Homo sapiens: one gene and its partner. The protein of the gene in region 2 purifies or fractionates together with the protein of the main gene of each other region. This does not show direct contact. Each region holds a gene or a part of one and is shown on either strand. Other genes may lie near its edges. The genes, in order: CNRIP1 and PGLYRP1.

The links.
Region 1: the proteins of PGLYRP1 (region 2) and CNRIP1 purify together in Homo sapiens (affinity purification with mass spectrometry; 3 studies listed by BioGRID and IntAct, with this or other methods). This does not show direct contact.

What each region holds. Positions count from the first base shown.
Region 1 is NC_000002.12:68,314,372-68,326,483, reverse strand, and holds the start of CNRIP1 (CB1 cannabinoid receptor-interacting protein 1), read left to right. Parts: upstream 1-6,534; 5' UTR 6,535-7,083; coding exon 7,084-7,262; intron 7,263-9,166; exon of another isoform or gene 9,167-9,176; coding exon 9,177-9,327; intron 9,328-12,112.
Region 2 is NC_000019.10:46,019,344-46,032,274, forward strand, and holds the start of PGLYRP1 (peptidoglycan recognition protein 1 precursor), read right to left. Parts: upstream 3,711-12,931; 5' UTR 3,679-3,710; coding exon 3,392-3,678; intron 305-3,391; coding exon 183-304; intron 77-182; coding exon 1-76.

The DNA of each region.
Region 1 (12,112 bases), on a different chromosome or scaffold from region 2:
TTAGCTGGGCGTTGTGGCGGGCGCCTGTAGTCCCAGCTACTTGGGAGGCTGAGGCAGGAGAATGGCGTGAACCCGGGAGGCGGAGCTTGCAGTGAGCCAAGATTGCACCACTGCACTCCAGCCTGGGCGACAGAGTGAGACTCCGTCTCAAAAAAAAAAAAAAAAAAAAAAAAAGAATAGAAGATAACTTTAATGTGTTATTTTGCTCAATAACCATATTCACACAATATCATTAGTTTTTCAGAGAACACACTGGAGAAAATGGCAATGACCAGTGGCATAGGTCCAATGCATGGAAACCTTGTTTGCAAAGACTGAAAAATGACAGCTTTGTGAGTTTGCTCAGTGTGAAGATGGGAAATGATGGTGTTTGGAAAGCAGAGAGCAAAAACAAAATTGAGCTCAATATCACAGACTATGACTGGAAAATACAGAACTCTGAAAAGACAGTTTGTTCATTGATACACTCATATGCCATGGACCTCGCTGTATTATTTGAAAACCAAAGAAGACTTTGCTATTTTTTGATTTAACAATTTGTGTAACATTTTGTGTTCCTAAAAGTAGCTGTATCATTTTTACCTTTGAAAGAAATCTATACAGGGAAAATATGCCCTAAAAATTAAGTATATTATAAATATTATATAAATTTTGTACTGGATTTTTTACTAATTCCATTTTTACCTCAGATTTGGATTATCCATGCTGCCTTATCTTCTCCCAGCCCTCCATGACCCCCAACATTTCGATTAATTGAAAGTTGCCCATACCATGATTGCTGTAGGACTTCAAAGGAAGTGAGTGTTTGTGGGGGCTGGACTAGTCGGTTATAGCTTCAAGGAAAAGGAAGAACTTGACTCGGGCCTTGATGAAGGAGAAGAATGACAATCTTGAATAATTAATGTATCTGTACATTCATTGAACCAATATAAGCACCCCTATACAGTGGGGTCAGTTCTAAGTACTGGGAATATAGTTATAAACAGAATATAATCTCTGCCCTAAAGGTATTTATACACTGGGGTTGCAGAGGACAGTGGGGGTACAATATACAAGTAGGCAAGTTTCTTTTGTAATTACAGTTGGTGACAAGTGCTCTGAAGAAAAATACAGTGAGTGAGGACCTGGAGTATGATACAGGCGGGGAAATATTCACAACAGACTGTAAGGGGAAAGAGTGGGAGTGGGATGGACATCAGGATGCCATGTGCAGTGTTCTGCATGGGGGTGATAGCAGCCTGTACCGCAGTGGTAACAGTAGGAATGGTGAGAGGTGCCTGGAAACAGCTTGCTTGTGAAGAACTGATAGGACTTCCTGATAGATTTGATGCAAAGGGTTAAAAAGACAGGGATCAAGAATAAACCAATTTTTTTTTACCGGAGCAACTGAGTAAACTATGATGCCTCTTACTGAGATAAGAAACCTTTGGTGGGGTGTGGTGGCTCATACCTGTAATCCCAGCACTTTGGGAGGCCAAGGCGAGTGGATCTCTTGAGGTCAGGAGTTCAAGACTATCCTGGCCAATATGGTGAAACCCCATCTCTACTAAAAATACAAAAATTAGCCATCATGGTGGCAGGTGCCCGTAATCCCAGCTACTCAGGAGGCTGAGGCAGGCAGATCACTTGAACCTGAGAGGCAGAGATTGCAGTGAGCCAAGATCACGCCACTGCACTCCAGCCTAGGTGACAGAATGAGTGAGACACTGTCTCCAGAAAAAAAAAAAAAAAAAAAAAAGTAACCCTCAGGGAGAATGAATTTGAGGTTAAAAAAATTGAGAATTCACTTTTAGCCATGTTATGCTTGGGACACCTGTTAACCTATCAGACACGCATGTAGAGATATTCTGTCAGGAGTTGGTTATGTGAATCTGGAACTTAGACAAATGTTTGAACCTGGAGATATAAAATTAGAAGTATCGGTGTGGTAGAAATAATACAGATATTTCCACCTAATGTAAGGAGGTTTGTGTTCTTTTTCAATGGAACTCTAGCCAGCCTCACAAAAGGAGTCAAGAACAGGAAAAGTAGAAAACTATCTTCATGGAATCTAGTTTTAATTGAGTATTTACTTTCATTTGTGGAGAAAAAGTGAGTGGAGCTGTCCTGGTTGTTCAGGAAAGATAACATTTATGTAGGGAAACAGCAAAAGTATTATTTGGAACATAAAGTGCTATGCTAAATTGGCCCAGAACAAAATACGAAACTGACATTATGATCGCCATCACCTGACCAAGGTGCATGTGACTGTATAAGGAGGTAACCAGATCCCCTAAGAGCCTAGCAGACAAATGAGGTCTACTGCTTATTGCCATGGCTACAAAATCCTTTGGGTCTAAGGGAGGACCTAGGTTCTTCAGAATTGGTCCAGGAGGATGGCTTTGTCTTTATGTCTGTTAAATCTAGCCAGAAAGAAAGCCCTGATATAAATGTAAAGTGTACCTGGCTGGGCACTGTGACCCACATCTGCAATCCCAACACTTTGGGAGGCTGAGGCAGGTGGATCACTTGAGGTCAGGAGTTCAAGACCAGCCTGACCAATATAGTGAAACCCTGTCTCTGCTTTAAAACATACAAAAAAAATTAGCTGGGCATGGTGGCACGTATCTATAATCCCAGCTACTCAGAAGGCTGAGGCATAAGAATTGCTTGAACCTGGGAGGCAGAGGTTGCAGTGAGCTGTGATTGCACCACTGCTCTCCAACATGGGTGACAGAGCTAGACTCCATCTCAAAAATAAAAGTAAAATAAAATAAAATAAAATGTAAAATGTACCAGTTAAGATCTCTAATGCTAAGACATTCTGAGGTAGGCAAAGGGAAGGAGTCAAGCACCTCATAAATCATTGACACTAATTTAAGAATAAAAATAAGAAATAACTCCTGCAGATGTTAAACTGTACCTGAATGCAAACATGAATACAAAGGAAAATACATTGTTAAATGTGCTGGTATTATATTGTGTATATGTGTTTGTGTGTGTGTATAACCCAAGCCCAGGACACATTATGACACATGACATAATTGAGTGTATACATATGTATGTGTATAACCCAGTCCCAGCACTCTTAACTACGTTATTTTCATATACATGCACACAACTATGTCCTGTGTCATAATTCTAACTGTTTTTGAACTCTATATTATGAATTCAGCAGAGACTGGAACAGCGAATATGGAACGGTTGTTAGCACAATGTCTTAGTCTGTTCATGCTGTTATAACAAAATATCTTAGCCTGGATAATTTATAAACAACAGAAATTTATTGCTTACGATTCTGGAGGCTTGGAAGTCTAAGGTCAAGGCACCAGCAAATTTGGTATCTGGTGAGGGTTCACTGTTTGCTTTATAGATGGCAAATTCCCGCTGCATCCATACATGGTAGAAGGGGGCAAACGACCTCCCTCAAGCCCCTTTTACAAGGGTACTACTAATCCCATTCACGTGGGCAGAAGAGCCCTTATGACCTAATCACCTCCAAAAGAACCCACTTCTTAATACTATTGCTTTGTGGATTCGGTTTCAACATAGCCATTTTGGGGGAACACAAGCAGCTGGGAGGCTGAGGCAGGAGAATCGTTTGAACCATAGCATGTGATTCCTCTGAATGACAACTAAGTCCATCGTTCACTTGGGCTCAATTTCACAGTTTTCAAAAGAATGATAATAAGCATTGTCCATTAGACAGACAATGTTTAAGATCACCAATCTGAGGTAATAATTAAAGAATCTACAATAAGACTGAAAGCACTAGATACCTTAAAAATATATAGCAAGAAATGAATTAATGCAGGAAAAAAAAGCCAAATACCGCATGTTCTCATTTTTAGTGGGTGCTAACCATTGGGTACCCATGGACATAAAACAGTTTTTCAACCCTTACTTGTCTCCCTCCCTCCCTGGCTAGTAGTCTTCATTCCATTGGTAACAATAGACACTGAGGACTTGGATGATGGGATCATTTCTACTCCAAACCTCAGCATCATGCAATACGCTCCAGTAACAAACCTGAATCTAAACTAAAAGTTGCTACATATTCAGCAAGTATATTTTTAAATAAAAATAGTTACAATGTATTGAGTGTCTCTATGGGCCTGATATTCTTGCATAGTTTACACAATTTCATTTGGTTCTATATGCATCATCTATGTCACCATCATCATTTTACAAATGAAGAAACTGGGGCTCCAAGAGACTAAAGCAGCTTTGCTCAAGGTCACTCAGTTTGTAATCCACAGATCTGGCAACACAAACACAGATCCATCAGACTCCATATTCATATTCTTTGCACATATGTATCAGTGATGATAAATTTTCCAATTACTTTTACATTTATTAATTTCATTTTAAGACATTACATTGTATGGTCCTGAAAATGCTATTCCTAATGGATATTGCCCAGCATTAGTAACACCTCGTATTTGAAAAGTAATTTATTTTTTTCAAACAATTTCCATTTCCTCATTCAATTCTCACAATGTTGGGAAGGAGGTATTTTAATCCTCATTTTACAAAGATGAAACATAAAGATGTTAAGTTATTTGCATAACGAAACTAAAAAGTGGCAGAGTTAGGTTTTTTTTATTTTATTTATTTATGAGATGGCAGTCTTACTATTTTGTCCATACTGGCCTCAAACTCGTCGGCTTAAGTGATCTTCCCACCTTAGCCTCCCAAGTAGTGGGGACTGCAAGAGTGCACTACCTAGCCAGGCTAGAACCAGAGTTTTTGTTTTTGTTTTTGTGTGGGTTTTTTTTTTTTTTTTCAGATGGAGTCTCACTTTGTTGCCCAGACTGGAGTGCAGTGGCATGATCTCGGCTCACTATAAGCTCTGCCTCCCCAGCTCAAGCGATTCTCATGCCTCAGCCTCCCAAGTAGCTGGGACTACAGGCATGCGCCACCACGCCTGGCTAATTTTTTGTATTTTTAGTAGAGACAGGTTTTGCCATTTTGGCGAGGCTGGTCTTGAACTCCTGGCCTCAAATGATCTGCCCTCCTTGGTCTCCCAAAGTGCTGGGATTCCAGGCATGAGCCACCATGCCGGCCTTAGAACCAGGTTTTAAAATGGAGTCATCATCCTCCAGGTCCAATGCTCTTTTTGATACACAGGTGGAAGTTGGCTTGAGATTGTGGGGTTGCTAAACAAAAGGTTGAGGAAAAAAGGCAAAATTTCCAAAAAGGCTTTTAAATGACCCCAAAAAGATACTCACCCTCTTTCCACTACTCATAAACCATAATAACCAACATTAAGTTTACTGTGTAACTCTCTCATTCTTTTAAAAGAGCTAATACAAACATACACATTTATATTCTTTTTAAATTTTCATTTTTCTAAAACACTAGAGATGCTACTTGCAATTAGATTTCTTTTCATCATTCCAGGTAAATCGCAAGGATCTAATTAATTTTAAAGATGTGAAAGAATTTACATATGGACATGATTAAGACCACAACCGTAAGTCAATTCAACAACGATTTCTGGAGCACCTACTATGTGTCAGGCACTATTTTGGCATGCTGGGGAAACAGCAACAAACAAAACAGACAAAATGCTCGCCCTCAGGCTTTGTTTCCCAGCCATCCCACTTTTATCATTAACAGTTTTTGCCTGTGTGTTTGCCAATGCAACCTATATTTCATTATTTTGATAGTTGTGTAACGTTCTATAGTGTGGGTATATAAGAATTTATTCAGCCATTTATTTATTGGTTAACATTTCATTTAGGTTTTATTTTTATTTTTGCAACCAATGTTGCAATAAACACCCATATTACATATATATTATATGTATAGCTTATTATTTCTTAAAAAAGAGCAGTCTAACTTGGGTAAACAAAAACTGCCAAGGAAACGCATCCCTACCCATTTGTTCTCACTAGCCCACTTCATTTCCCAGGTGTGCTCCCTGGCTCTGGTACTATCCATCTGGGTGGTGCTGAAGCAGGTGCTCTCTCTGCTCCGGGAAGCCATTCCCAGTATAGTCCTCACCCCCTGAGTCTCCCCTCGCTTCCAAAAGTCAGCTGTCTACCGACCTCTGCCACGAAAACTGTCTAATCACGCTTAATATGCAAATCTAAACTCTGCGGTGTCGCATATGGCCCCCTGCCAATAATCCTTTGACCCATCCCACCTCTTGGCCATTTTGTCACCAGAATGCCTTAGGCTCATGTCAGTTGCCTTTTACAGGGTTAATAGCTCACCCTTCAAAATCTGTGTAAATATATGTGATTCATTACATATATTTATGTATGTGTCATTTTTGGGACGAGCATACGTATAATGGAAATGTACACCCACAAGAAGATGTAGCTCCTTGAATATGGTTATTTTCTTCCTCTTGCATCCATTCCTCATCCAGCGTGGCTCCATCACGTGGAATTGCGCCTTTCCTCGGCCATTTCCCCTAAGCTTTGGAAAGACTCATATTTCCTGAAATTTAAATCACCGGCTAGCGGTTTCCTGTCCCCCCTTCCCGCCTCCCTTTACCCCCCCTCAGCCTCCTCCCGCCTGGCTGGCGCCGGATCCGCGAGCAGCAGTGTCCACCTCACGTAGCTGGCCGAGGCGGTATCCAGATTCCGGGGGTCTCGCTCCTTGGCATAGTGGTCGCTTAACTCCAGCGCCTTCCCAGTGCCTCCCAAACCTCTCCTCCTCCTGCCCGGGGCTGTTCTAGGAGGAGCCTAAATGTCCGCTTCCCCAGCTGAAGGGGATTGTGGTGCGTAAACAGGATTAACTCCCTCGCCCCCAGCTGCGCGGATCTGCGCGGCGGCCTGCGGGCCAGAGCGAGCCTTCGGGTGCGTGGAGGGCGCAGCACTGGAGCGGGGGATGGGGAAGCGCGCGGCCTTGGAGCCGTCTCTTGGGCCCGCTTCCTCGCCGAGTGGGGAGGGGGGCCACAGCCTAAGGAGCTGCTCCTCAAAAGCCCGGGCGGACGGCGGCGACGGCGCGGGTTCCTAGCGGCAGCCTCAGCTCCACCACCTCCCTCACCCTCCCCGCGCTTCCTCTCCGCCCCTCGCGCTCCAGCCACTCGGCCGCAGCCGGCGCTGTCCTCCGCCCCCCGGAGCCGCCGCGCCAGACCCTCGCCCAGACATGGGGGACCTGCCGGGCCTCGTGCGCCTCTCCATCGCGCTGCGCATCCAGCCTAATGACGGCCCGGTCTTTTACAAGGTGGACGGGCAGCGCTTCGGCCAGAACCGCACCATCAAGCTGCTCACCGGCTCCTCCTACAAGGTTGAGGTGAAGATTAAACCCAGCACGCTGCAGGTCGAGTGAGTGCGGGGCGCCTGGTGGCAGCAGGGTCCCCCATGGGGTACAGGCAGAGGACTGAGGCCCCCAGGACAGCCCGAGCCTCTCAAGGGCCTCTGGCCTCGCGCCGCTCCCAGCGGGCCCGGGGGTTGGAGGAAGAGGTCACTCCCTGTCCGCCTTCGTCCCCTTCCTTCCCTTTGGCTTGTATTCCTCCATTCTCGCTTCCCTCCACCCATCGCAGTGACCTCAGTGGGTTCTTTAAAATCAGTGACAAGAAGCCAGGGTTTTTGCTTGTCTGTTTCTTATAAATTTCTCCTGCCTTCTGTCCAGCCTTGGGCGCGGAACCGCAGGCGGTCGGGGTGGAGCAGATGGGAGAGGTCCGCAGGGTTCAGCCACCGCAATCCCAGCCCTCCTGCGCGCGGTCCAGGCGGCCCACAGGGTCTGCCCGCAAGGCTGAAGGAGGGAGAAAGGAGGAATGAGGTGGAAAGGCAGGGGAGGGGTGATTACTGGGGCTCCCTGAGGGATGCTCCCCACTCCCTTCGCCATTCAGTGGCTGGGACCCTGGGGTGGAGCAGCAGACACTAGTAAGAGAGCGGCCGCCCCTTCTCTGGCCTAGTTTCACGGTTTTCCATGCCGTATGCTGTTCTTTTTCTCCTGAGTTTTCTGTTCAGGCTGGTGATGGTGCCTGGGATTAGCAACATCCCCACAGCAAGAGGATGTTTTTTGGTTTATCCATGGCAGGGACGATTTCTTGCCAGCGACCGCTGGATAATGCACCCAGTAGACCTCTGGCGGGAAAGTGTGTGGGAGCATGCAGTAGCCTACCCGGAAGAACTGCGGGTGGAGCCCCTTTACCTCTCGTTTCTACCTACCAAAGTCTAGTCTGCAGAGAGAAAATAAACCAGCATTTATTGTATCTACTACATATGGTGGGCATTATTGCGGGGGTGGAAGGACTTTGAATTCATCAGATACTACTTATAGCTTACGTTTTAATTCAGTAAACTTGTATTAGCCTTCCAAGGTGCAAGGACCTAGAACCAAATCTGGATGGTTTCTGGTACTCCTGATTCATCTATTTGTCAGCATCCCCCACAGCTCCATGCACCCTTTATTCTCACATTTCCCAGTGTTCTGTGCACCTGGATATAATCCAGGCTTTTCCTTTCCCTTCTTTCCTGCCAACCTTATCCCCGGAGTTATCTGTTAATATATTTCTTTTTTTTTTTTTTAGAGTATTCCTCTAGTGTTCAAACTAATCTAAAAGTTAATTTGTTAGGAATAAAACTATTTTTTCTGGTTACATTTTAATGCTATCAAGGATTTCTCAACTCTAATCCTGTGGTTCTCAAACCTGAGTATATATCAGAATCACCTGGAGTGCTTGTTAAAACACAGATGCTGGAGCTCTCCCTAGAAGTTCTAGTTTAGTCTATGGTAGGGCCTAAGAATTTGTTTTCTAAGGTCTGCAGGTGATGCTGATACTGCTGGTCCAGGGACTTGGCTTTGAGAACCATTATCCTAACACAAAAGAATGATGCCAGTGAGAATTTCTGATGGTGTAGAAGGCTTGAGGTACTCCAAATCATAGGACCCCTGATTGTTGGAACAGGAGAAAAAAAATATTAGAGGACGAGTTCAGTATTCTCAATCCTACCTGCATATTAAGATCACCTAGATAACCTTAAAATAAATGTACCAGTGTCCAAACTACATCCCAGGCCAACTGAATCCTAATGTCTGGGGCTGGGGATAGGTAGGTTTTTAATTCATAAATAGGAGAAGCACTGCCCCCTGAACTTGCAGAACTTTCTCCCGCACCACAATGCCCCCCTTAGTGAAACCCTGTAAGTTTCCTGCCTAGAGTTTTGGTCCAAAACAGGACAGGGTGCCTAGGCTAATTTCAACCGTATGTGGTCAACTCAAGTCTATTGCAGGAATATTTCCATTGGTGGTGTGCTTGTCCCACTGGAACTGAAGTCTAAAGAGCCTGATGGGGACAGAGTTGTTTATACGGGTACATATGACACAGAAGGTGTGACCCCAACGAAGAGTGGAGAACGGCAACCCATCCAGATCACCATGCCGGTAAGGCTTGCTTGCGGGTATAGGAGTATGGTGCCATGGAAAATGGAAACCACAGAAAAGAAAACAATCACTATCTCTCTGTAAGAAAAGGTGTGTTGGGAGCCAATTACTGTGGAAATTGAGTTGTGGATTTCCTTCAAGCATCTGCTGGAGAGAGAACTACTTAATTAATGCTCTTTTGCATGACAGACTGACCCTGTAGATGCTGAAAAGACACCATAAGCAGAAGCAGATGGTTCTGGAAGAGACAGAACCTACATTGCCATTTTCCCAGTTATAGTCTACTTCAGAACTGGTTTAGATAATTGGCTGTGAAAAGTTTCTGATTCCAAGTAGGCCACAATATTCTGGTTAAGAGAAAGCTGATTTGAATGACACTTTGCTACTTAAAGCTAAATGGAGGAGCCAAAAAAAGTGTCATGGGAAAAATACACCTCTTATATAATATCCTATAATACACCTATTTTATATAATATATACCTATTATATATACACCTATATAATATATATATACCTATATTATATATACCTATTATATATAATATCTGGTAATCCTATCAGATATCATATATAATAAAATGATATACCCTGGTAATATGGCCCCAAGTAAGAAAAAACAAATTGGTAGAAAGGATAGAGTCAAGACATAGATTTAACTATATGTGCAAACATAATAAATAGGTGATGAAGCAAGCTTGCTAAAGCACAGGAAAAGGAAGCTTCACCTAAACTGCTGCTTGCAAACTGGGCAGCCTTTTCCCTCTGCAAGAACAACCTTCAACTGTCTGCCCTCTAGCTTTATAGGAAGTATCACAAGGGTTCTCAAATATCGGTATGCGTGAGAATCTCTTTGGGAGTTTGTTTAAAATTCCAGTCCTAGGTTCCCTCTCCAGTGATCTTAGCTCAGTAGAGCTAGGGTGGGGACAGAGAAACTCTTAGCAAGCATACCAGATCCTGAAGAGGATGGTGTGGGAATGCACTTTGAGAAATGCCTATCTAACCTTTGGAAACTTAAAGTGTTCCCAGTCCCCATTATACTTTTTAAAACCACAATAGTCACATAAGGAAATAATCTAGCAGCTCATCCCTTTGCATCCAATGTTTGAACTATTTTTAGAAAGTGCTCTTGTTCTGTCAAAGAACCTTCAACACAGAAAAATACAAAAATGAGGGAAATGTATAATTCCTGCAAGAGAGAAGTGTTGTTAACATGTCAATAAATGTTCTTAGAAAGTTGTTTCTATGTCTTTGAATATATATGTGTGAGCCTGGGCAACATAGTGGGACCCTGTCTCTAAAAAAATTTTTTTTAGTTAACCGGGTGTGGTGATACCACACCTGTAGTGCCAGCAACTTGGGAGGCTGAGGCAGGAGGATCACTTGGATCCAGGAGGTTGAGGCTGCAGTGAGCTATGATCACACCACTGCACTCCAGCCTCGGTGACAAGAGTAAGACCCTGTCATTAAATATATATATTTGAGTATCATTCCATATATATACTTTTTTCTACTTGTATACATCTTTCAATGTCAAATATATGCCCATATATATATATGGAATGTCATTTTAAAGTCTGTATGGGTATTGTATTTTATGAATGTATCAAATTATCCTCAGTCACTTATTGCTGATTATTTCTGGTTTTCGGTATTATAAACAAAACCACATTACAAATCACTGAGTACTGTACAATTGTCTAATGTTTTCTTGATTTCTAGAAGAAATGTGCACGTTAAGGCATTTTATAAGACTGCCTCACTGACCTCCAGAAAAGCTAGGCAATTTACACGCCTATCATCTGTATTTAAGTATCCATTTCTCTCTGCACTAGGTATAGTTTGTCATGTTTACATATTTTTAATCTGACTGAAATACTTCAATTTTTACTTACTGTTAATTTGAAATCCTGACATATTCATTTACTATTTGTATTTGCTTCATGGATTATATGTTCATAGTTTTCACCCATTTTTCTGCTTAAGTGTATCTTATTGATTTTTTGAAAAATCTTTATAAATTTAAAATCGTCATTTTTATCACATCTTGAGTGTTCATTTAATATTTTAATTTTTATTTTGTTTACAATATAAAATATAAATTTTGTAGTCAAACATGTTAGCCTTTTCCTTTATTATTTTGCAGTTAAGATCCAGCTTAGAAAGTCTTCCTTGACTCCCAGATTAATTAATTATATATAGACATATACACAGTGGCATTTGTGTATTTTCATCTGAACTCTTATGGTCTCATTTGTTAAATTTTAGATGAATTACAGATTTAGATATTATTTCAGTTCTTACTTTTATATTGGAAAGTATTTGCCCACAGTGTCCTAATACAATTATTTAAATAATCTATGCTTCTCCAAAGGTCAGTTTCATAGAAATTTCTTATATTGCAAAAATTTTATCTCCTCCTATACTCCCTAATCTATTCCATTGATCTATCTATTGTTACACCAATACTGCATTGTTTTAGATACACTGTTTTTATAATATGTATTCATATACTTTGTAACTGACCACCTTACTGAACTTGCTTACTAAAATTTTTCAGCAAATCATCTTGGGTTTTTCATATAGATGGTCAGAATCTGAATATAACTGTCTTTTTTTTTCCTGGTCATATTGCATTGTCTAATGTTTCTAGAATAATGTTGACTGCTGCTAGCAGTCAACTACAGCTAGTAGCAGTAGTTGGAGATAATTTATCTTATTTGATATATTTGATGAATTACATAAAGTAATACACTTCCAAATACTAAACCTTATTTTTTACAATAAG
Region 2 (12,931 bases):
CTCAGGGCTCCCTGAGCCACACCGCAGGCCAGTAGACCCTGGGCTGCCCGGATGGCCTGGGGTGTGGGCACCCGATCTGGAGGAGGCAGAGGTAGGAGTCAGGCAGGGGCTTCCCCGAAGGGGAAGTGATAGCGTAGGGCCCCGTGTCAGCCCCCATCCCAACTGGCTGGACAGTCACTCACCCATGTAGTTGCCCATGAAGCTGATGCCAATGGACATGGGGTTCCATAAGTGACCTGAGTGGGCACCCGTGAAGTTCCAGCCACGGCCCTCGTATACGAGCCCGTCTTCTCCAATCAGGAAGCTGCATGGGGAGGTGGGGGGGCTTGATGAGTGAGGGAGGGTTTCCCGAGGAGGACTCCTCCTCCTTCCTCCACTCACCCTGCCTCCGTTACTGCCGTGGTGCACACAACTTCCCCAGCATCCTTCTCACCCGTTAATTTCCCACGATAGTAACAATGACTGTGGTCATTTATTGGGCCCCTGCCATGTGCCAAGCACAGCTCTGCATACACCTTTTTCCATCCTCACAGCAACCCTGTGAGTCACTATCACCCCCGTTTTATATAGACAGAATCAGAGCGGTAGAATCACCTGCCCCGGGGTCACACAGCCTGTCTGGGGCACAGCTGGGGTTTTTAACCAGGCCTCCATGGTCCCCACCCATGTGATCTTGTGCGTTGCTCTCTCCTGCCTCCCTAGAGGATTTGTGGAAGTCCTGTTTTACTGAATCCTTGCAGGACAGCCCTCTGAGGCAGAGACTTTTTTTTTTTTTTTTTTTTAAGACGGGGTTTCACTCTTGTTGCTCAGGCTGGAGTGCAGTGGCGTGATCTCAGCTCACCGCAACCTCTGCCTCCTGGGTTCAAGTGATTCTCGTGCCTCAGCCTCCTGAGTACCTGGGATTACAAGCATGAGCCACCACACCCGGCTAATTTTTGTATTATTAGTAGAGATGGGGTTTCACCATGTTGGCCAGGCTGGTCTCGAACTCCCGACCTCAGGTGATCTGCCCGCCTTTGGCCTCCCAAAGTGCTGGGATTACAAGCATGAGTCACCGTGCCCAGCCAAGGCAGGGACTCTTATCATCCTCATCTTAAGCAGAGAGAGCAGAGACTCAGAAAGCGACATAATTTGTACAAGCTACTCAGAGCCCCCTGCCTCTCAGAACTCTGCCTTTGCCCCAGCTTGCTTCCTGCCCTCGGGGTCCACTGGGGGACAGGATCACAGACTCAAAGTTGGGGTCGTAACCAGATACCGACCCTGGAGCCCCAGCACCTGCCTCTTTGAGGTTCCCAAGCCTGGCAGCAGATCCTTAAGGCTGATTCATTCAGCACATCTGATTGAGCGTGTCTGACTTGGCAAATGGGAATGAACTAGAAGATCAGTGCCTTGGAGCTGCAGTATGTGCCAACTCAGCCCCCGCGCTCACAGTGTCATTAATGACGCACAGAATGTCGGAACTTCCGAATCTTGAGTCCCGAATCTGCTGCTTAGGAAGCCAGCTCCCAGAATCTGGCCCCAGTGATGCTGGCTGCTGGGACTGGCTGGTTATGGCCCTGCTGGTGATGCTGGCTGCTGGGACTGGCTGGTTATGGCCCTGCCATATTCCCGGAGCCTGGCATGATGGTGCTGGGGTCGGGGGTGGTTGGTTCTCCCTGGTCATTTGTTGCATGAATGCATCTCATTGAAACCTCAGCCACCATCGCCAAGCGGGTACAGTCAGAAGCCCCATTTACAGGTGAAGAAACGAGGCTCAGAGAGAGAAGGTGACGTGACATGGAAAGGGGATTCAGAACGTTAGAACCAGATTCGGAATCCTAAAAGCTGAGGGCCAGACAGCGGCTGCTTCTGTATGTGGTGATGTGGACCCGAGGCTCGGGCCTTCGTGACCTCATGGGAACACTTAGGATCAGAGCGCCTGAGTCTTGGAAACAAAATGTTGAAGTTGGAGTCTTTGATAAAATCTTGAACTGGAAGGGCTGGGAATACCTTTGGACACTTCTAGACTTCTCTGGGTGGGTTTTGTGTGTGTGTGTGTGTGAGACACAGCCTTAGGAGGTCCTGAGAACATGTGTCCCCTGGGTGGGGTCTATTGAAGTGGTCTCTGGGGACCTGCATGTTCCTCCAATAAGCTCTGCAGGAGATTCTGATGCTTACCTGGGTCTGAGAGCCTGCAGGATTGAAAGTTCCCTCCCTGTGGAAACCGTCAGGCTGGACTGCAGCCCATTCTAAGGAGGAGGTAGCTGGTAGGCGTGGCCCCGGACCTGCTTCAGCCTGCTTCAGCCGGCACCCCTTACAGTCTGTTCTCCCCACAGCAGCCAGAGGGAGTCTCTTGTACCTACACTAGCCCTGGTCCCTGCTCTGCGGGGGGAAGCCTCCCATGGCTCCCATCTCGGAGTAAAAGCTACAGTCCTCACTGTGGTCCACAAAGCCCTGCCTGGTCCTGCCCTTTCCTCATTTCATTCCGCTCGCCCGGCTGTGTTCAGCCACCCTGTCCTTCCCACAGGACCCGCCCACTCAACCCCGTTGGCTTTGCCCCCAGCACCCCCTGCCACCTGCAGGCCTCTGTCTGCTCCCCCATCCCAGAGCCAAGGCAGCCACTCTCAGGGAGGCTTTCCCTTGCCCCACCCTTCCAAGGAGCCTGTGTGGGTCTGGTCCCAGCCTGAGGTCACCCTCCCTCACCTCTTTCCTTTTATCCATCGCCTCTATCACCGTCTGAATTCACCTGTGGCCTTGGCTTGTTTCTCCCTGCTGGTCTTTCAACCCCAGGAGGCTAGAGTGGCACCGTTCTCCATGCCACATCTGGCACACTGCCTGGCACATAGTAGGTGCCTAATGGTAATAGCCCGTGGCTTTGCGGGCCCCCGTGTGCCAGGCAGTTCCTAGGTGCTTTGCCTGTATTGGCTCATATAAGGAGCAGATGGGCCGCGATTCCATTGACTTTGCCGAGGAGGAAGCTGAAGCCGGGAGGACCCGCCCCAGGCCTCAGCCAGCAATAAGATGAGCTGACCCTGGAACCCAGCTCCGCACTGAGTCAGCCTGGTTTTCCGCCTCCTAACAAAGGCACCAGGCATCAGGAAGGGGCGCCTTCATAAGGCGTCGCGGACACCTTGGTGTGTGTTAGGCAAAGCCTGCCCCTTCTTCCCGGGAGCGGGAGCGGGGCTTGGATTTCAGCCCATCCCCCCTTCTCACGCATCTTTGTGCTGTGAGCACCTGCCCCGGCCCACGTGGTGACCCGAGGAAGAAATGACCTTGTGAGGTTCAGTAAGCTGCTCAGGGTGTCAGCCAGGTGGCCTCAGCACCAGGCCTAGAAATGGTCCCGCTGGCGGGCACTTGCACACCTTTGCCTCTGGGATCCCCAGTCCAGCCCGTGCCCCCCTGCCACACTCACTTGTAGCCCACGTCGCACCAGCCCAGTGTCTTCATGTGGTAGTGCTGCACATTCCGGGCCTGCTGCTGGCACGAGGCGGGGGTGTTGCAGCTGCTGCCCGCCGTGTGCGATACCACCACATAGCGTAAGGGCAGGCTCAGGTGCTGGGCGCACTCTGATGCCAGGGCCTTCCACTCGTTCCGGGGCACTATGGGGCTGCAGCAGGCCGGGTCTTCTGTCTCCTGAGCCGCTCCGAGTCGAAGGAGGCTGGGGAGAGCCCAGGCAAGCAGCATAGAGCGGCGGGACATAGTGGCAGGGCGGCAGGGTCCGGGAGACCGCTAGGAGCGCCCGGTGGAGGGGCCGCCTTTATCTGCTGGGGGATTCCAGGAGTGGCCCGGAAAGTCTTGCTTCACACCCTGCTGGGACTTCCTGCTGGCCCAGCAGACCCCAGACTCAGCTTCCTTCTCTGGCTGGGCCAGGGCGGGATGCACTGTGGTTGGGGTCTGGGTCACGCCCACGGCAATGACAGGCCCCCTCGCTCAGCAGGGAGGGACGCACAGGCCCCTGGGCGCTTCGCCCCGCCGTTTCTGGAAGACCCGGGGCCGGGATCCCGGTCCTGCTTGTCTCTCCTCTCAGTGGAACATTGAACAACTCAACAGGAACTTACATCGCAGAGGCCCGGGGCATTGGCACATCTTCTCCCCGCAAGGACTGAGGTAACAAAGCTACCCATTTTAAAAACACTTCCTTCCCCCAGGTCCAAGCCTGATGCCATTTACGCTTGCAGCAAACTCAAGAGGTGAGTATCTGGAAGTCCATTTCACAGTGGAGTAAACTGAGGTTGAGAGCAGGGAAGTCACGGGCTGAGACACCGGAGGCACTGGAGCCCCGCGTCTAGAGCCAGGCTGCCTGCATGTGAATCCTGGATATGCAGTGTGTGAGAGCCTGCAAGTGGTTTTTAAAAATGTGTATTTAAAATTTTTTTTTTAATTTTCTATTTTATAAATAATATTTTCCTTTTTTTTTTTTTTTTTTTTTGAGATGGAGTTTTGCTCTTGTCACCCAGGCTGGAGTGCAATGGTGCGATCTTGGGCCACTGCAACCTCCGCCTCCTGGCTTCAAGTGATTCTCCTGCCTCAGCCTCCTGAGTAGCTGGGATTACAAGTGCACACCACCACGCCCAGCTAATTTTTATATTTTTGGTAGAGACGGGGTTTTGCCATGTTGGCCTGGCTGGTGTCGAACTCCTGACCTCAGGTGAGCCACCTGCCAGTGTTCCAGAGTGCTGGGATTACTATAGGCATGAGCCACCGTGCCTGACCTGTGTGGTGTGTTTTCATCTTCTGTGTTCTGCCTTCTCATATACATTGTACTCATGCTGTTACTGAATTGTGCACCAGGCATCTGTAGCACTTTTCAGAAATTATCATATACTCAACGACAAGCTTGCCAGATCCATGTTATTATTAACCCCTCTTACAGTTGACGGAACTGAGGCCCGGGGGGATGATCACATACAGGAGGTGATGAAGCCAGGGTTTGGCTACAGGCTTTCTGCCTGCAGAGTTATAAACCGTATTCTCCTCCCTACAAACTTATATAAGGACATTAAAAAAAAAAATCAAAACCATGTGCATCAATTTACCTTTTGTCACCTAATATTTCATGGGCATCTCACCAGGGCAGTACATCTAATTCTAATTTATTCTTTATAATAGTTGCACAATATGCTATAGTATCAGTTCAGCATTGTGGATCTTTTAGTTTTTGAAGGTTTTCCAGTATTTTCTCCACACTACGCAAAATATTTTCAGACATATATCCCTATGCACTGGTGCATTTATAAGTAAATTATAAACACAGAGTTATTAGGTCAATGAGTATACATATTTAATTAATATTACCAGATCATTTTCCCCAAAAAGCCATTAATAATTCATATTTTTCACCAGTAATGTTTTGGAGCCTCCTCACCCCGACCCCAGAAGTGGGTGTTATCACTTTTTTTTTTTTTTTTTTGAGTCAGAGTCTCGCTCTGTCACTCAGGCTGGAATGCAGTGGCACGATCTTGTCTCACTGTAAACCTCCACCTCCTGGGTTCAAGCCATTCTCCTGCCTCAGCCTCCCAGGTAGCTGGGATTACAGGCATGTGCCACCACACCTGGCTAATTTTTGTATTTGTAGTAGAGATGGGGTTTCGCCATGTTGGCCAAGCTGATCTCGAACTCCTGAGCTCAGGTGATCCACCCACCTCAGCCTCCCAAAGTGCTGGGATTACAGGCATGAGCCACCTTGCCTGGCCAGTGTTATCACTTCTTAAATTTATAAGTATAAAGTGACAGCTCCTTTGGCATTTTTATACCCACTCAGGAGACTGGGTATTTTTCTGTATTTGCTGTCTATATTTGGGCTTGCTCTTTTGTCAATTACCTGTTCATATCCATTGCCCATTAAAAAAAATTGGGTTGTTTGCCTTTTTGTTATTATTTGCAAAATGAACAAAAGAATCCCATAATTGGGATTTTTGACTTCTTGGGTGTGTACATTTTGTGTATTTCAGTTTTTTTAGAAGCATTAAAGAATAATGTAATATAAAAAGTGTGTAAACACATTTTTTATAGAGTTGATAGACTTAATAGAGTAGTGAGCTTATGAGTGTTCACGAAGTGAATCCACCTGTGTATCCAGTGCCTGGATTAAGAAGTAGAGCTACACTTAAAATTTTAATAGGAATTGGTAAATACAATACCAAAAAGATTTTAGTATATATTTTTCCCACAATATGATCAGTTTTTAAATGTTTTACTAATCCAAAGAACAAGATCTCATTATTGCTTTATTTGCATTTCCTTGAACATTAGAGAGGTGATTATCTTTTTACATATTTATGGCTATCAGCATCCATCTTCAAACTGTCTGTTCATCTCTTCTGATCATTTTCTTGTTGAGTTGTATATGGGGGATATTAACCCTATGTCTTATCAAATGTGCTGTAAACCCTTTCCTCTAATCTGTTAAAAAAATATCTAGGTTTTTCTTTTATGGTTTCTGTGTTTCCTGTCTTGCCTTAAGAGGGACTTTTCACACTAAGATTGTAAAACTTTTTCTATTTAAAAAAGATTATTTTGTGTTTTACTTTTAGATCTTTATCTCGGCTAAAATGTATACTTGCATGTGGTGTGAGGTAGGGGTCTGATCTTGTTTCCAGATGCCTAGCCGTTTGCCCAGGTTCTGTTTATTATATAGGTAGACCTGGTTTTAAATTTCCATTCTGCCCCTTATTAGCTACATGATCTTGGGAAATTGGATAGCAATTGACACAGTCGACCACTTCCTCCTTCTCAAAATACTTATTTCCCTTAGCTTTTGTGATGTAAGACTGCCTTGATTTTCCTTCTGCTTCTCTGGCTGGTCTTTTTTTCTCTCTCTCTTTTTTTCAGAGCAATTCTTCCCTCCTGGACCCTCAAACCATATATTTTGTGCTGAGTGATCTTATCCACATAATGGCTTCAGCCACAGTCAAAATGCAGAGGATTCCTGTATTTCAATGTCTAGTCTGGAGCTCTCAGTTGAGTTCTGGATCTGTGTATCCACCTGGCCACTTGACGCCTCCACTTGGATGTCCCACAGGCACCTCCAATGCAAAATGACTCATGACCTTCTCCTCCCCATCAGCACTCTCACAGGAGTTCCTGTCTAAGGAAATGGTATCACCATCTTCCCATTACAAAAGCCATACATTTGAGCACCATCCTTGACTAATTCCTGTTCCTTCCTCTGTTGTACCCAGTACCCAAAAGAATGCCCAGCACATGGTAGGTGCTCACTAAATAGCTACTTGATTGAATGGATATGCAACCCACCACCAAGGAATGCCACTGTGATGAATTAGAACTCTTCTATCTAATTCCATTCTCTGCACCCTGGTCCAGACACCACCTCCTTTCACCTGGATTTTGCCCTGCCTCTTCAGTGACCTCCCAGGATGCACTCTGGCCTCTGTGAAGCCAAAGCTCTGCTCAGATCTTTTCTAAAGTCACCCTCAAAAATGAGTCACATTTTTCATTGGCATCTCTTGATTCCTAGAATGAGGCCCAAGCTCCTCCCCATGGCCAACAGCATGGGCTGCCTACAGTATGGGCTGCCCCCATCCCAGCCTCACCTTGCTTACTCCCAAAAGCCTCTTTCTGACTCCTGCAGCCACTGTCCCCTTCTTGCTGCCCTTGAACATGCTTTGACTACCCTGTTCCCTTGGGGACTTCAGACACACCAGGTATAAGTTTTAAATAGAGGAACCTGGAACGAATTCAGGAACTTTGTACCTTAGCTTTAAGACAACAAAACACCAAGCCAGCCTTTTGTAAAAAGACAGGACTATTTACACATCACATTCCTTTTTTTAATTTTTATTTTCTTTTTTCCCTTTCTTTTGCCTGTTCTTTCATTTGAGGCACAGATCCCTTAAAGACACTAAGAATATAAACATTAGCCAGCTGGAGTGAAGCCTTCCATTGTGAGAGTTTTATTTAGTCTGTATCTTTAAAAAAATGTATTTACTTATTTATTTTTTGAGACAGTTTCACTCTGTTGCCCAGGCTGGAGTGCAGTGGCACAATCTTGGCTCACCACAACCTCCGCCTCTTGGGTTCAAGCAATTCTTTTGCCTCAGCTTCCCTAGTAGCTGGGATGACAGGTGCCCACCACCATGCTCAGTTAGTTTTTGTATTTTTTTTTTTTTTTTTTTTAGTAGAGATGGGGGTTTCACTATGTTGGCCAGGCTGGTCTTGAACTCCTGACCTCAGGTGATCTGCCTGCCTCGGCCTCCCAAAATGCTGGGATTAAAGGTGTGAGCCATATTTACTTACTTATTTTTACATACAGGTGTGAGCCATATTTACTTACTTATTTTTACATACAGGTGTGAGCCATATTTACTTATTTTTACATACAGGTGTGAGCCATATTTACTTACTTATTTTTACATACAGGTGTGAGCCATATTTACTTATTTTTACATACAGGTGTGAGCCATATTTACTTACTTATTTTTACATACAATACAAACACTTTAAATAAAGTTGAAGATCATCTCCATGGACCAGGTGGTCAAGCCGAACACCCAGGATCCAGCTGTCAAGTTCAGGGTAGCCCCTGAGCTTCTCACTCTGACTCCAACAGGGTGAGCTTGCTATCCTTGTGGCACAGGGCCTTTTGCATTGTGGATGATGGAGCGGCTCGTATAGTCCATAAGTTTTGTGCGTAGCTGTGTACCCTGTCCCTGTGAGCTGGTTCTGCCCGGCACCTCGGTGACCTCGAGGAAAGAAGCTGAGGTAAGACCTGGCCTGCCTGGCTCCTCGACTTCCTTCCTCAGCCCTCAAATTCTGGCTCCCACCTCACTCTCTAAATTTATTTTTATTTTAAATTTCATTTTAGAGACAGAGTCTTGCTTTGTCACCCAGGCTGGAGGGCAGTGGCACCATCATAGCTCACTGCAGACTCGAACTCCTGGGCTCAAGGGATCCTCCTGCCTCGGCCTCCAAAAATGGTGAGATTATGGACATGAGACACTGCACTGGGCCTATTGTGTATCTTGTTGGCCTAAAATTGAAACATGCCTTGTGAGCGTTTACTGCAACTTCAATGAGTGATTATTATGTTGCCTTTAATCCTGAGAGACTGTATTACTTGTGCACTTTTTTTTTTTTTGGATAGGGGGAAATTAGATTTATTCCCTATATGTTTTAGAAAATTGAAGTTTTAAATATCAGACTCACTAGCTGCCCTGATTTAATCTGTTACAATTAAGTCAGTTAAAAAACTCCTCCTTGGCCGGGCATGGTGGCTCACACCTGTAATCCCAGCACTTTGGAAGGCCAAGGTGGGCAAATCACTTGAGATCAGGAGTTCGAGATCAGCCTGGCCAACATGATGAAACCCTGTCTCCCCTAAAAATACAAAAATTAGCCAGGCGTGGTGGCGGGCGCCTGTAATCCCAGCTACTTGGGAGGCTGAGGCAGGAGAATCGCTTGAGCCCGGGAGGCAGAGGTTGTAGTGAGCTGAGATTGCGCTACTGCACTCCAGCCTGGGCAACAGAGCCAGACCCTGTCTAAAACAAAACAAAACAAAACAACAACAAAACCCCCAGGACTTCCTGTACCCACATTCTAGTGGGGAAGACAGGAAGCAAATTAACAAACATCTAATAACTATTTTTAAAAGCCAGATATACGATATTTCACGTGGATGACCCGATTGGCCTGCTGCGGGTCAGGGAAACAGGCTCCCAGGTCGCATCCTCAGCTTGTTCTTGGCGCTGGAAAAAAGATGCTACGCGGTTCCCTCCTTCAGCCACCAGAGGGCGCGCCCTCCCCGTTTGTCCTCTTTCGCGCACTTTTTCTCCCGCACCTGTCAGTCACAGGGCAGCCCTTTAGCGGAACAGGGATCCTGTTCTGTGATTTTCCTGAGGGCCTGCCTCTCCCAGGGAGTAGCGGGCTCCTACGAACAGTAATAGCAACCATAATGTAGAGACCAAGAGCAGAGTTACTGAGTTTTATGCTGATGTCCAAAGTCACAGGGCATTTCATTTTTCTTCTTTTTTCCTTTCCTTTAAAAAAATGGGCTGGGCATGGTGGCTCACGCCTATAATCCCAGCTCTTTGGAAGGCCGAGGCGGGTGGATCACCCGAGGTCAGGAGTTCGAGACCAGCATGGCCAACATGATGAAACCCTGTCTCTACTAAAAGTACAAAAAATTAGCTGGCTGTGGTGGTGGGCGCCCGTAATCCCAGCTACTCGGGAGGCTGAGGCAGGAGAATCACTTGAACCCGGGAGGTGGAGGTTGCAATGAGCCGAGATTGAACCATTGCACTCCAGCCTGGGCAACAAGAGCAAAACTGTGCCTCAAAAAAAAAAAAAAAAAAAAAAGTGATTGGGTCGTGAGAGTTCTGTTTTCATAAATGAATTAATACATTCATGAATTAATGAGTTAATAGATGAATGGGTTATCATGGTAGTAGGACTGGTGGCTTTATAAGAAGAGGAAGAGAGACTTTAGCTAGCATCCTCAGCCCCCTCGCCATGGGATGCCCCATGCTGCCTCAACACCCTGTAGAGTCCCCACTAGCCAGAAGGCTGTCAACAGAAGGACCCCACAGTTTCAGCCTCAGAACTGTAAGAAACAAATTTTGTTTCTTTATAAATTACCCAGTTTCAGGTATTCTGTTATAAGCAACAAAAAATGGACTAAGACAGGAATATTACTGGGTTAAGAAATAAAAGTAAAAAAGAACTACTATTGATACATGCAATAATCTGGATAAATCTCAAGGGCATTATGCTAAGTGAAAAAAAGTCAATCTCAAAAGATTTCATACTGTACAATTCCAATTATATAACTTTTTTTTTTAGACGGAGTCTTGCTGTGTCACCCAGGCTGGAGTGCAGTGGTACAATCTTGGCTCACTCTCACTGCAACCTCTGCCTCCCAGATTCAAGCAATTCTCCTTGCCTCAGCCTCCCAAGTAGCTGGGATTACAGGAGTGCACTACCACGCCTGGCTAATTTTTGTATTTTTAGTAGAGATGGGGTTTCACCATGTTGGCCAACCTGGTCTTGAACTCCTGACCTCAGGTGATCCACCCGCCTTGGCCTCCCAAAGTGCTGTGATTACACGTATGAGCCACAGCGCCCAGCCTATATAACATTCTTACAATGAGAACACAACAGAGATGGAGAACAGATTGGTATTTGCAAAGGGACAGATACAGTGTGTTTGTGTATGTGCATGTATATGTGTGTGTGCCTGCCACTATAGTGGTAACACAAGGGGATTCCTTTGTGGGTCTCTATCTTGATTGTGGTGGTAGGTATACAAATATTTATATGGATCAGATTGCATAGAAACACACATGCACATGCGTGCACACACACACAGGAATGCATGTGAAACTGGTGAATACTGAATAAGGTCCTCTGTAATCTAGTTAACAGTAATGTACCCATGTCACTTTCCTGGTTTTGATATTATACTATGGTTATGTAAGATGTTCCCACTGTGGGAATACTGGATGAATGTTACGTGGGACTGTATGTACCATGCAATTTCCTGTGAGTCTGTAAGAGTTCAACACAAAAAGTAATTACAAAAGAAGAAAAGAAAAGGTGCTGGTGATGACAAGGTTGTTGGGAAAAGGGCTTGTGCGGTGCCTGCATAAACTGGCCGTAAAAAATATGGGACAATAAGTTGTGGAAAGCCACAGGAGGCCTCTGATGAGGAAAGCCTTCTAATTGCCATCACGTTCCCATGGCCAGAGCGTGACCTGCTCTCTTATTTACAAGCACTGTGCTCAAGGAGAAAGACACTCCTTTGAAGCATTGGAATGTGGCCAGATATGCCGGCTCCTAGTTACGCCCACTCCCCACAGCTGCTCTCCAGTGAGTTAAAGAATAAATCAGTAGTTAAGTTTATGCTGCTTCAGCACAAAGACAATTTACCTAAACCGCCATTGCTATAGATTAGGTGTATGACACACCGCCCCCCTTTCACCATTTCACCCCTGAATATCTGCTTCTCAGATCTAAGTGATTGTACTCAGTAGTGTGGAGACCAGAGTTTGGCACCTTTTGCAGCCTCCAAAAGTGCAGTTGGCCCCCTGGCACCCCACCCTTTATGCACTCTTAACCTGTCTCTTCTCATTCCTTCGTCGCCACCGGACTTTGGGTACCCTACGGGTGGTGTTGAGGCTGGTCCCCAACACAAGGTGACAGCAGCCATCCCACTCCATTAGCAACTGTGGTGATAAGCACTGGTTTAAAATGGGCTGAATTGAAAACTGTTACTCTTGCCTTAGTCCAGGGATTGGCAAACTTTTTCTATAAGCCCCAGGTAGTAAATATTTTAGGCTTTATGGACCACATATAATCTCTGTTGCATATTCGTTTCTCTCTCTGTGTGTCTGTGTGTCTATGTGTGCTTTAAAATGTTTTATAAATGTAAAAACCATTATTAACTCATTGGCTGTTTAAAATAGGCCACATATAGTGTGTGTGTGTGTGTGTGTGTGTGTGTGTGTGTGTGTGCACATAGGTGAGATTTGGTCTGTGGGTTATAGTTTACCAACCCCTGCTTTATACAATATTTCTAAAGGCTGGACATGTTACGTCTTCTGACTCTGGAGTTGTTGACAATGTCTTAGCCACCTGTTCTGCCACTTGGAAGACTATAGACCAGCAGACTAAAGATATCTCTTTATAAGGCTGTGAACTCTGGAAATTCAATCACAGCTGCTAATGGAAACTTCTAAGTCCACTAGCAGCTGTGATTCATTATTCATGTAGATGCTCATAGTAATGATGGCAGCAGTGGCCCGTCTGGAGCTGCCACTGCCATCATGTGGGCTGCAGTGGGGGGCAGGTGGCACAGTTGGGGCTGTACACTCCACTAGACGGTTGGAGCTGGGGACAAGTGGGAGCCCTGCCCCTTCCAAGTTGGTGGGGCAGGAGCTCCCCGGGTGCAGCTGCAGCCACCCAAGTCATGGCTATGGACCCAGGCCTTCCACTCCAT